Linked DNA regions of Homo sapiens. The protein of the gene in region 3 purifies or fractionates together with the protein of the main gene of each other region. This does not show direct contact. Each region holds a gene or a part of one and is shown on either strand. Other genes may lie near its edges.

Region 1 (3,655 bases), on a different chromosome or scaffold from region 3:
CTCGTCGCTCTAAATCTCCAAAAAAAAGATCAAAAGACTATTAAAAACAGCAAAACCTTATGCACTTGTAAAACTTTTAAAAGCTTAAAAACCTTGACTTTTTAAAGTATTCATATTACATATTCCAAATATTATTAAAGGGGCTACAAAAAAATTTATAAATTCAAGAAATAAAACTCAGCAAGATACAAAAGTTAGAATAAAATAGGAAATAGAATAATCCAAAGCAAGAAGGTCATATAAATAACTATACTAAACTAGTTCATGAGGAATAGCCTTTCTCAAATTCAGATACGGCTCATATAGCTAACTCTATTCCTTAGATCAAGAAACAATGGTAAAAATCCCAAACTTGACTATAAAATGATTTTTTCTAAAATTTTCCTCAGGAAATTCACCTTTCCCATTTTGCTTTTAAATCAGTTTATGAGCCATAGAAAATATCAATAATGAAGAGTGATGCTGAATGATAGCAGTAAATGAAACACAGCCAGGCGTGGTGGCTCACACCTGTAATCCTAGCAATTCAGGAGGCTGAGGCAGCAGGATAGCTTGAAGCCATGAGTTTGAGACCACGCTGGGCAACATAGCAAGACTTCACATCTCTAAAAAAATAAAAATTAAAAAAATCTGCCACGCGTCGTGGTGCACACCTGTAGTCCCAGATACTTAGAAGGCTGAGGCAGGGAGACAGCTAGCCCAGGAGTGCAAGGCTGCAGTGAGCTATAATCGCACCAGTGCGCTCTAGCCTGGGTTACAGAATGAGACCCTTAGTCTTAAAAAAAAACAGCAAGCACAAGAATATAAAATATAATCTACAGAAAAATTCAGAAGTTGACAGTGTATCATAAAGAATTACTATCAATTATAAATTAATCTATTATATAAACTAGTACCTGGATATTTCCTTTTAAAGGAGGTCACACCCAAATATTCACTGACTTGTTCTTGAAGCATATAGTATTCTCCTGTTTCATCAGGTGGCCATTTGTACTCTATCAAGTTTTCTGCTGGATAGTAACTAAAACTAAGTACAGAAATACATATTATGCATTAAATGTAGCTTTCATTAATTTTTAATCACTTTTATTGAGGATATTTTGAAAACTATTTTAAGTATTTAAATTATTTGCCTCCTATGACTTGACTTCCTGTGTATCAAAGAAAATTACAAAACAGGTACAAGGAATAGAAATAATTATCTGGTCTACCAAGTCAAAAAGGTATGTGAAAATAACATCTTTTATACACTGGGAAGAACGTAGAATCACAATTGCTAAGAACGAAGGCATTTTTAGTTTAAAGGACCTATGAGGGCAAAGCAAGGTGATGATGGTATCAGCTCTGACTTCTTTCTCTTGGGCTTAAAATGCATAGCCAGTATTTCATCCACCCAAAGAATAATCAACTTCTGTCTCTTGTCTACTGTTCAGTGAGTCATAAATAGCTGAGAAAACAGAACTCTTAAAAACCTATTATCTCAGTGCATCATATCATAAACCGTAACTGTTTGTTCTCAGATACTCCACAAACCCAGAAGCAAAGAATGGACCTAGTTTGAAGGTGCCAGGGTATCACAGTCGATCTCCATCCTGAGTAACAGAGTACAGATTTCAGGATATGGGCCAATTCAACCTCTATATTGGACATGGGAAAGTGACACTATGTTATGCATCCATCTATTTAAAAAGTAACCTTCAAAAAGAACAGTGTTCTCAAAAATGGTGCTGGGAAACTGGGTATCCACATGCAAAAGTATAAAATTGGACCTTTACCTCATATCACAACTCAAAATGGATCAACAACCTAAATATAAGAGCTAACTAGAAAACTCTTAGAAGAAAACATAGAAATCTTTCACAACCTTGGATTTGAAGGTAGATTCTTACATATGACACCAAAAGCACAAGCAACAAAAGAAAAAATAGATGAAAAATTTGGGCTTCATCAAAATTAAAAATTTTGTACAGGGACACTATCAAGACAGTGAAAAGACAACCCACAGAACAGGAGAAAATATGTGTAAATCATATTTTTGATGAAGTATTAATATATAAAATATATTTAAAAAGCTCCTACAACAAAAAAAACCCCAAATAAAAAATGGACAAAGAACTTGAATAGACATGTCTCCAAAGAAGCTATACAAATGGCCAAGCAGATGAAAAGATGTTCAATATCAGTAGGCATTATGAAAATGCAAATCAAAATCACAATAAAATATCACTCCACACCTTTTAGGGTAACTATTATTTTAAAAAATGAAAAATAACAAATTGGTGAGAAATATGAAGAAACTGGAAACTGTGAATTGCTGGTAGGAATGTAAATTGGTGTGCAGCCCCTATGGAAAACAGTTTGGCAGCTTCTCAAAAAATTAAACATAGGATTACCATATAATCCAGCTACTCCACTCCTAGATAAACATCCAAAAAAACTGAAAACACAAACTCTGAACACCAATGCTCACTGCAGCATTATTCACCTTGGCCAGAAGGTGGAAACCCAAATGCCCATCAACATCTGAATGGATAAACAAAATCAGTATATACATAAAATGGAGTATTATTCAGCCTTAAAAACAGAAAAAAAGTCTGACATATGCTACAAAGATGAACCTTGAAGATATTCAAAGTTCTAAGAGAAATAAGCCAGCCACAAAAGGACAAATATTTTATGGTTCCACTTATATGAAGTAACTAAGTAGTCGTATTCACGGAAATAGAAAGTAGAATGATGGTTGCAAGGCGCTAAATAGAGGGAGAAAGGGAGGTTATTGCTTAATGGTTATAAAGTTTGGGGTAGTGAAAGTTTTGGAAATGGATGGTGGTAATGGCTGCACAACACTGTGAATGTAACTGATGCCAATGAATTTCACACTTAAAAATTGTTAAAATGATTAATTTTATGTATGTATGTATTTTACTATCATAAAATTGCTTTTTAATTACACTCAGTAGCAAGACCAACTTTGATGGCACATTATAGAACAGGAAGAAAATATTCTACAATTTTTAATAATTGCCTTTGCCAGAGCTGGGGGAAAGGGAAGAGGATGTTAAGGCAAAGAGGAACATCACAAAAAATATTAATAACCGATAAAATGACAGTACCCAAGATCTTGACTTGAAGTTTCACAACTCCTAGAACTATCTCCTGAGCCCATTCGCCTCCTTTTGGATGGCTGGGTCCCATCATTTGAATTATCTTCATTATCATCCTATACATTTAAAAGATTCAAAAATAATAATTAGAGAAAGAATAAAAGAACAGTAAGTCTCAATAAATGAAAGACTGTCTAAGGACAACTAGTCATACAAGTATTAACTTCATATTATAATTAAAAGGGTCCAAGAGTTTGGCATGAGCAAGACCTGGAATAAAATTTAAAACTGATCTTCAATCCAATCCAAATAAGAACATTTTCAATGAACCCGTAAATGCAAATCTGCTTTGGTTTCTGCTCTTCATAAACATATCAAACTGCTGCATCACTCTAGGATTAAAGCAAACTCTCCTACCCAAGCTCAGGGGGAAAAAAATGTATGGATCATTTACAGTTCTCAATTCAACTTGAAGCCGGTTCATAGGACTATTTTAATTGACTACTTTAGGCATTTATGTCCCTGTGAAAAGGGGACATATGAGACCGAAA
Region 2 (3,655 bases), on a different chromosome or scaffold from region 3:
GGAGGAGGAAGGGAATACCTTCACCCAGCAACAAGTATGCCTTTTGTGTTCTTTTAGTTATTTGGCATGTTACAAGTTCTGCTGCTTTTATAAAATACAAGTTAGAAATGTTAGGAAAAACAAATGAGACATGCTGATTTGAAGAAAAACTTTTGATTTTTATATGGTGATTCTGAATCCAGCCACCTTATTGAAGATTTTTTTCTAAACTATTCCAATAATCTCTCAGTTCCAATACCGCACACTATCCAGGGCTGGTCACAGTACACTATGGGCATTAGTATGACTTACAGAAAATGGAACATGTTGGCTTACTTTCAACCTGGCTAATGGAAGAATGGTTAAGAGTGTCTACCATAGCCTGGTGTTTTCATCATCAAATCTGATTAGACCCTATCATGTTTTTGTTGCTTTCCAAATAATATGTAATTTTAGTTTTGATTTTGTCTTTATATTTCTAAGTAAATATATAACAGACAAAAAACTGCTCATAGCTATTTGTTGAATTCCATACTTTTTAAAGGTTAATTTTGAGTGTTTCCAATTTATTATTCAAAAGTATTCATGGATATTCAACTTTTGCATTTTTTGCACATCTAAAAACATCTGTATTTTGCCTTTGTGTTGGTGTTTTTTTGTTGTTGTTGGGTTTTCTTGAGACAGAGCCTTGTTCTGTTGCCCAAGCTGGAGTGCACTGGGCCAATCTCTGCTCACTGCCACCTCCGCCTCCCAGGTTCAAGAGATTCTTGTGCTTCAGCCTCCCGACTAGTTGGGATTATAGGTGTGAGCTACGGCACCCGGATTGTCTTTATATTTAAACACATTTGGCTAGTAACAGAATTCTAGGTTCAAGAACATTTTCACTTTAAGGGCACTGTTGTTTTTAGCATGTGATGTTACAAATTAGAAGATGATGCTAATCTGATACCTGCCTATTTGTGGCAAATAGCTTTTCTCTCTGAAAGCATTTGGGGTTTTAGCTTTGGTGTCCTAAATTTCAGTGATCTTTGCCAATAGGTAATTTCCATTTTTAAGACCAATGTCTTTCTTTAGATCTAGAAAATTTTCTTCTGTCACTTCTTTGATATTTCCCCAAAACTTCTTATCTTCTAGGCCACTCCTATCCCAAAGGAACTTGTGGATCTAACTTGGATCACTCTTTGTACTGGTGCACTAAGTTTGGGGAAATTCTAGTTCACTAATCTGATTATCAGCTATGAAGTTCTTCCTGCTATTCAGCTCACAGAATGACTTTAATAGGATCCACCAACAATCATGCTTTTAACCTTTAAGGTGCTATGTCATTTTTTTCCCCAGGACTTCAGCTTTCAAAATCTCTTGTTTTCTCAGGATTAATTATATTTGTTGTCTATGTTTCTTAATGTTTGATGAGGACTGGTTATCTGTAACTATTTGTAAATAAAGGCCTTCCCATAGATTATGGTAGAAAATACTTCATAAGCTAAGAATCCTTATTTTCCAGGTAGTAGATACCAATTCTGATTATAAAAGCCCAAACAGAAGAGAAAGACACACATAAATATGCACTATATTGAGCTTTGCATTACTGCTGTATTTCTCAAAATTAGATCCACAGATGACTTCACCAGAATCATGAGGGTTTTAAAGAGCAGTTCAAACTGAAAATCCTAGGTTCCTTCCCAAAGAGTTCTGTATTTCTCAACTATGTTCAGTGTAAACCATTAATTGACTTGCTGCATCTGTCAAGGCAACTTGTAAAACGACAACTTGTAAAAAAAAAAATAATAATAATAATAATAAAAAGTTAATACTTACCAGCTGTAGTACTAGTTTGAGCTCCAAAGGCAAAAGTGGCTTTTGCTGGCTGTTCAGATTCCTTCTCAGATGGTTTTGTCATACTAAAACTAAATGTGGACTTTGAAGAATTCTCATCTTTGGTTTGCTCTGAATTCCCAAAGGAAAACACTGGTTGACACTTTGGCTCTTCATTGTCAGCTTTCTTCCCAAAAACTAGGGAAGTAGAAGTGACAGGCTCTTGCTGTTTCTCTTCTGTCCTTCCCAAAACAAACACTGAGGCAGATGGCAGAGAGGCAGGCTCCACGTTGCCAAAAGAGAATCCTCCTTTGGTGGCAGGCATTTCTTCTTTTTTAGCTTCTGATGTCTTACATGTGAAAGGAGCCACTGAAGCACTCTTGGTTTCTATGGTTCCAAGGTTGAAGCTGCTCTTGTTCTCAGAGGTCACTATGGTGTTAGCAGGAGCAGGGGTGGAGTTAATAACACCTGTACCAAAGCTAAAACCTGCAGAGGAAGATTTGGGCAGTTCCTCTTTCTTTTCTTCCTGTCCAAGATTAGATACCCCAAATTGAAATGGAGTTAAAGAAACTGGGTTGCTTAAACCAGAAGAAAGTCCAAACTTAAAATTATCATTCTTACTATCTTTTTTAACTTCTTCGGGCTTAGATTCAGATGAAACTCCAAATTTAAAATCTCCTATTGGTTTAGAAAATTTAAAGCCTTCACTCATGGGGTTTATAGACCCAGAATCGGATGACACACCTATTTTGAATCCTCCCTGATCTCCAAATTTAAAATTTCCAGTGCTTGTTAAAGTCTGAGAAGGCCCAGAAGAGGATGATGAGACACCAAATTTGAAGGATGAGGAGGCTGCTGAGTTCGAAGATGAGGAAGATGTGTCAAAGCCTACAAAAATATAAAAGACACCACATAGACACTCAATGTACTGATCCTCTCAAACAAAATGTAAACACTGTGAAAGCCAAAGAAACATAGGAGTAACTTTGAAAGGGCCTACTTTGAAGAGTATTACCAGCAGCTGTAAACATAATCCAAGGTGACCTATATTTAGTCGGTATGAGAATGATATCTCAATCCTCACAACTATCCTGACAAGCCACTTTTCATTTATCAGACTGGCTGCGATAAAGTTTGATAAAGTTTGTACTAGTGATGAGACTGGAAGTAACAGGCTACACATTGCAGGTGGGTGTATAAATGAACACAAAACTCATAGAGAGCAATCTGTCAATAGTTACCGAAAATTACAAATGCATATACCCTTTGACCTTGCAATTCTATAGCTGGAGTTTGTTTTAAAGATAAACTCATAGACATGCAAAATGCCATATGCAATCCAGGCAGCTATAAACGAAGAAGGAAGAACAAAGATGTGTCCAAGATAATCCCTGATAAAATCAAAGGGGCAGAAAGGGAGTGCGGTATACAGACTTTTCTAACAAGGTAAAAGGAAGTAAGAATATATAGGGGTATGTATGTTTGCCTTGGATGGGCATAAAGAAACTTTGAAAGATTTACAAGAAACTAACCACAGTTACATTTGGAAGTGGGAGGGAAGGTGGAAAAAGAGACAATGGAGAGAAGAGATTGAACCTTGTCACAATTTCTTGATTTTTAAATCTTGTGAATAAATGTGTTATTCACTCAAGCATTTAAAAAAGGAAGGCAACAGAAAAACAGAAGAATTACAGAGTTGAAGCAATGTTTATAAAGTTAAACATCAGACTGGGCGTGGTAGCTCACGCTTGGAATCCCAGCACTTTGGGAGGCCAAGGCGGGCAGATCACCCGAGGTCAGGAGTTCAAGACCAGCCTGGCCAACATGGCGAAACCCCATCTCTACTAAAAATACAAAAAAA
Region 3 (3,655 bases):
TAGGAAAAGCCGCATTTCAGCATTCTGGTGGGTGACATGACATTTAATTGTCCTAATATATGAAAACTTCAGGCTAAGAGTTACAGCTAAAATTATCTGTGGATTTCTATTATCCACCTACACTTAATTTCCCTTAGTTGCCCAAGGGCTCCTGCCCTCTCCTTCCCTCATCCCTTCAGCTTAAGTTGTAGATTATGGTCTGTACTATTTCTACCTCTTGAACTTCCTTCGGTTGCACAGGTGACTGCCCCTCCTTCAGAATGGCTTCCCTTGGCTTCTGCAGTGAGCTTTGTTTCTCACTCCTCGTAGGACCCTCCACCTGCATGCCTCCTGTCGCCCATTCCCATGGCCTCAATCCCCCACATGACGAAAGCTGCCGGAGCTGTGCCCATCCTTGCCATAATTCCTGTTGTATACCTAGTGGTCTTCCAGGGCACTCCACTTGAGTGTACCAAGGCCTTTCAAATACAGCATTTCCAAGACCAACCATTTCCTCCTTAATTAAACTGTCCCTCCCCCCATGTATCTTCCCAGTGAAAGAGCCATCAAATATCACTCAGCTCAACACCTACGTCTACCACCTAGTCACCAGTCAAGGCAATTCATAAAATCAAACCAGACAAAAAAAAAAAAAAAACACCTGAAGTTCAAGAGGTTTACTGTACAACAGGCAGGTAGAAATGTATTATGCATCTGAAAATAAGACCATGTTGTACACCATAAGTATATAATTTTTGTCAAATAAGAAATACAATTTTTAAGCAAAATATAATTAATTAATTACAAAACACAAGACCTAATCTCTAGCTTGGATCTGAGATATGCTTCCTCTGTACCTACTTCCTTTCTTGGCAGTGCAACCCGTTAACCTGAATTCTACATGAAAGAGCTTTTACAACGTCAGGAAATGAAGCTCCTCTCATGCATCTGAAGCATGCAATGGAGCAGAGAAAGAGCACACACTTATGACATTAGCCATGGCATCCTAAAGACGTTCAAGACTACCCAGAACCACCTGAGAATCGATTTCATGTAGGATTACGTATCTCTGCCTCGAATTACACTATATTGGTATATACAGTAATATATTTTAGGAAAATTGCGAATACTTTATTTTTATAATTTGAATTGTTTTCCCATTAACACATACCACCATTTATGAGACGCTCTGAGTGACTGGCTGTTGTAAACGTCTTACTGACTGCCTCCCCACCACTGCCACCTACCTGGCTCCCTTCCTTACGTTTTCAAACTTTAATACATTTTATGATCAAAACTTTGGCAATGTAATGAATATTTTTGTAATAACAATTTCTTTTCATTGCTTCTCAAAGTGTGAATGATACACCTTTCCTATCCTTTTTTTTTGGAAATAAAAGGGAAATAAGCTTGCATGTCCCTTAAGGAGAACGCTCAGGAAAGTAAGTATTTCCGCTCCCAGGAAGTCTGCATTATGCTTACTGGCACGGCACCTCTAACCTGACCATTTGAGATCCTCCAATGACTATTTCCTTGGAGCATCACGTTGGTGCTCAAAAAGCTTCAGATCTTGGAGCATTTTGGATTTCCAGATTAGAGACACCCAAGAATATAGTCTATTCTTGATGTTTTAAACACTGCAAAACGTGAGGTAGGGTAGGTTTATTTCAAAGCTGCCACCCAGGATATTCAAAGCGGCATCTCCTGCCTAACACCAGATGTCCAGGCCACCAAGACCACACTCTCCTGGGTCTAGAATGTATCTGAAGGGAGAGGATGTACTGGGGACGAGTTCTTAGATGCGGAGTGACTGCTTAATAATCAGCACATTATTTCAATTTAGGAGTTACAACTCATCTTCCATCCTTCTTAGCACAGGAATGAATCATTTTAATATACTATACTAGCAAAAAATCCACACCTAAAATGCCTCTAGTATAGTGAAAGGGCTCCCCCTACCAAGGCCTCAATCGCAGGGAGCAGACAAGACTCTCAGAAGATCCTTGCGTTTTCCTTTCTTCCTCCAATCTGATGCCACTTCGCCCACCTCTGTATTGCTTTGCTCATTTTTCTTCTCCAGATTGTCACTCAACTTGAATTTGTCTATATTTATCTTATTTCCTCAACTGGATAAGCTCTCTTTAAGGTCCAGACCTGACGTTTCTTATTTTTTTCTATCTCCCATGACCTACATCAAAGAATAAGTATTTTAAGAAAGCATTTGTTGATATCATTGCTCCCAGCGGAGGGATTGCTGTGCAACCCAGAAATCAAATGAGTATTTAATAGCAAGAGCTGTAAGGGGGCACTCACTTCAAATCCAACATTTCTGCGCTTTGCTTTCTTTATGGCTCTATTCTTCAAGACTTCCTCACTGGCCATGGAGAATGTTCCCACCTGCAATACAATACAAATTAAGCAGCAGTAAGATAAAGCCAAACAGATGACAAAATCCTCAACAACAACAACAAGCTAGAACTGAGCCACTGTGTCCGGCCTCTCAAAAATAAATTTTGGCCAGGCACAATGGCTTGCGCCTATAATACTAGCGCTTTGGGAGGCCAAAGGTCAGGAGTTTGAGACCAGTCTGGCCAACATGGTGAAACTCTGTCGCTACTAAAAATGAAAAATTAGCTGGGCATGGTGGTGGGCACCTGTAATCCCAGCCACCTGGGAGGCTGAGGCAGGAGAATCACTTGAACCCTCCGGGAGGTGGAGGTTGCAGTGAGCCGAGATAGCACCACTGCACTCCAGCCTGGGCAACAGAGCAAGACTGTCTCAAAAAAATAAATAAATAAATTTTGTTATTTATAACATACACATGATTTTTAAGATGAGTCCTGCCCAACTTGCCCACTGTACGAAAGGCCACGGAGGCACCTAGGACCTTGCTGGACAACCACTGCTCTTCCACAGTGCGCTCAAAGCACACTCATGTCCACACTTCTGATGTCCACGTCAGAAAGCTGCTGAATATCTTCGGCTTTAGTTTATAGCCCTTCTTTTACCCTGTAGGGTCGGAATAAAATATTTCTCATGCAAAAATTCTCACCTATAGTTGTTTCAGATCATATTAAACTTAACGGGCTCCTACACTCATAGAGGGGACCATCTGGCTGCACTTGCCCCAAGTTAAATGTACTTAACTAAATGTAATCTTTCCACACATTTCATTGGCATATGTTCGAATGGGAGTTCTTTCATTCCTGAATATTTTAATGTCTAAGCAAATAGTTACATGGTAATCTAGATGTTACTATAGCCCAGAATGTAACTGTGCTTAAGATCTTAAACCAACAACAACAAAAAACCAAAAACCCCCATAACCAAAGATTTTAGTTAAAAAGCACCAAATCAGTTTTGACCCTGTCAAAACACTCACATCCTTGGGATTCTGGTTTCCCTAAACATATGTGAGGAGATACACTTGTAGAGAAAAAAAGTACTAGTACCAGAAAGATTCCAAAAGAAGGAAGATGGCCGTCTAAGAATAAGCTTGGAAACAGTTGCAGTTTTAACATTTTTCTTTTTTCACTTAGCACTATGCTGTTAACCTGAAAGTCGTGGTTACAGATTTCCTTAGTCATCTGGCCTGGGGGTAACACACTGCTGATAAGGTACGACTGTAGAGTCCAGCCCTACTGGGCTTTGCGGGTGTTCTCCTCGAAGGGGGAAA

What was found.
Region 1: the proteins of NUP50 (region 3) and PHF10 purify together in Homo sapiens (affinity purification with mass spectrometry; 4 studies listed by BioGRID and IntAct, with this or other methods). This does not show direct contact.
Region 2: the proteins of NUP50 (region 3) and NUP153 purify together in Homo sapiens (affinity purification with mass spectrometry; 10 studies listed by BioGRID and IntAct, with this or other methods). This does not show direct contact.

The regions. Positions count from the first base shown.
Region 1 is NC_000006.12:169,717,892-169,721,546, forward strand, and holds part of PHF10 (PHD finger protein 10), read right to left. Parts: intron 3,221-3,655; coding exon 3,114-3,220; intron 1,028-3,113; coding exon 897-1,027; intron 16-896; coding exon 1-15. UniProt on the Homo sapiens protein: Involved in transcription activity regulation by chromatin remodeling. Belongs to the neural progenitors-specific chromatin remodeling complex (npBAF complex) and is required for the proliferation of neural progenitors.
Region 2 is NC_000006.12:17,626,858-17,630,512, forward strand, and holds part of NUP153 (nuclear pore complex protein Nup153), read right to left. Parts: intron 2,683-3,655; coding exon 1,798-2,682; intron 1-1,797. UniProt on the Homo sapiens protein: Component of the nuclear pore complex (NPC), a complex required for the trafficking across the nuclear envelope. Functions as a scaffolding element in the nuclear phase of the NPC essential for normal nucleocytoplasmic transport of proteins and mRNAs.
Region 3 is NC_000022.11:45,170,321-45,173,975, reverse strand, and holds part of NUP50 (nuclear pore complex protein Nup50), read right to left. Parts: intron 2,989-3,655; exon of another isoform or gene 2,799-2,988; intron 2,377-2,798; coding exon 2,293-2,376; intron 1-2,292. UniProt on the Homo sapiens protein: Component of the nuclear pore complex that has a direct role in nuclear protein import. Actively displaces NLSs from importin-alpha, and facilitates disassembly of the importin-alpha:beta-cargo complex and importin recycling.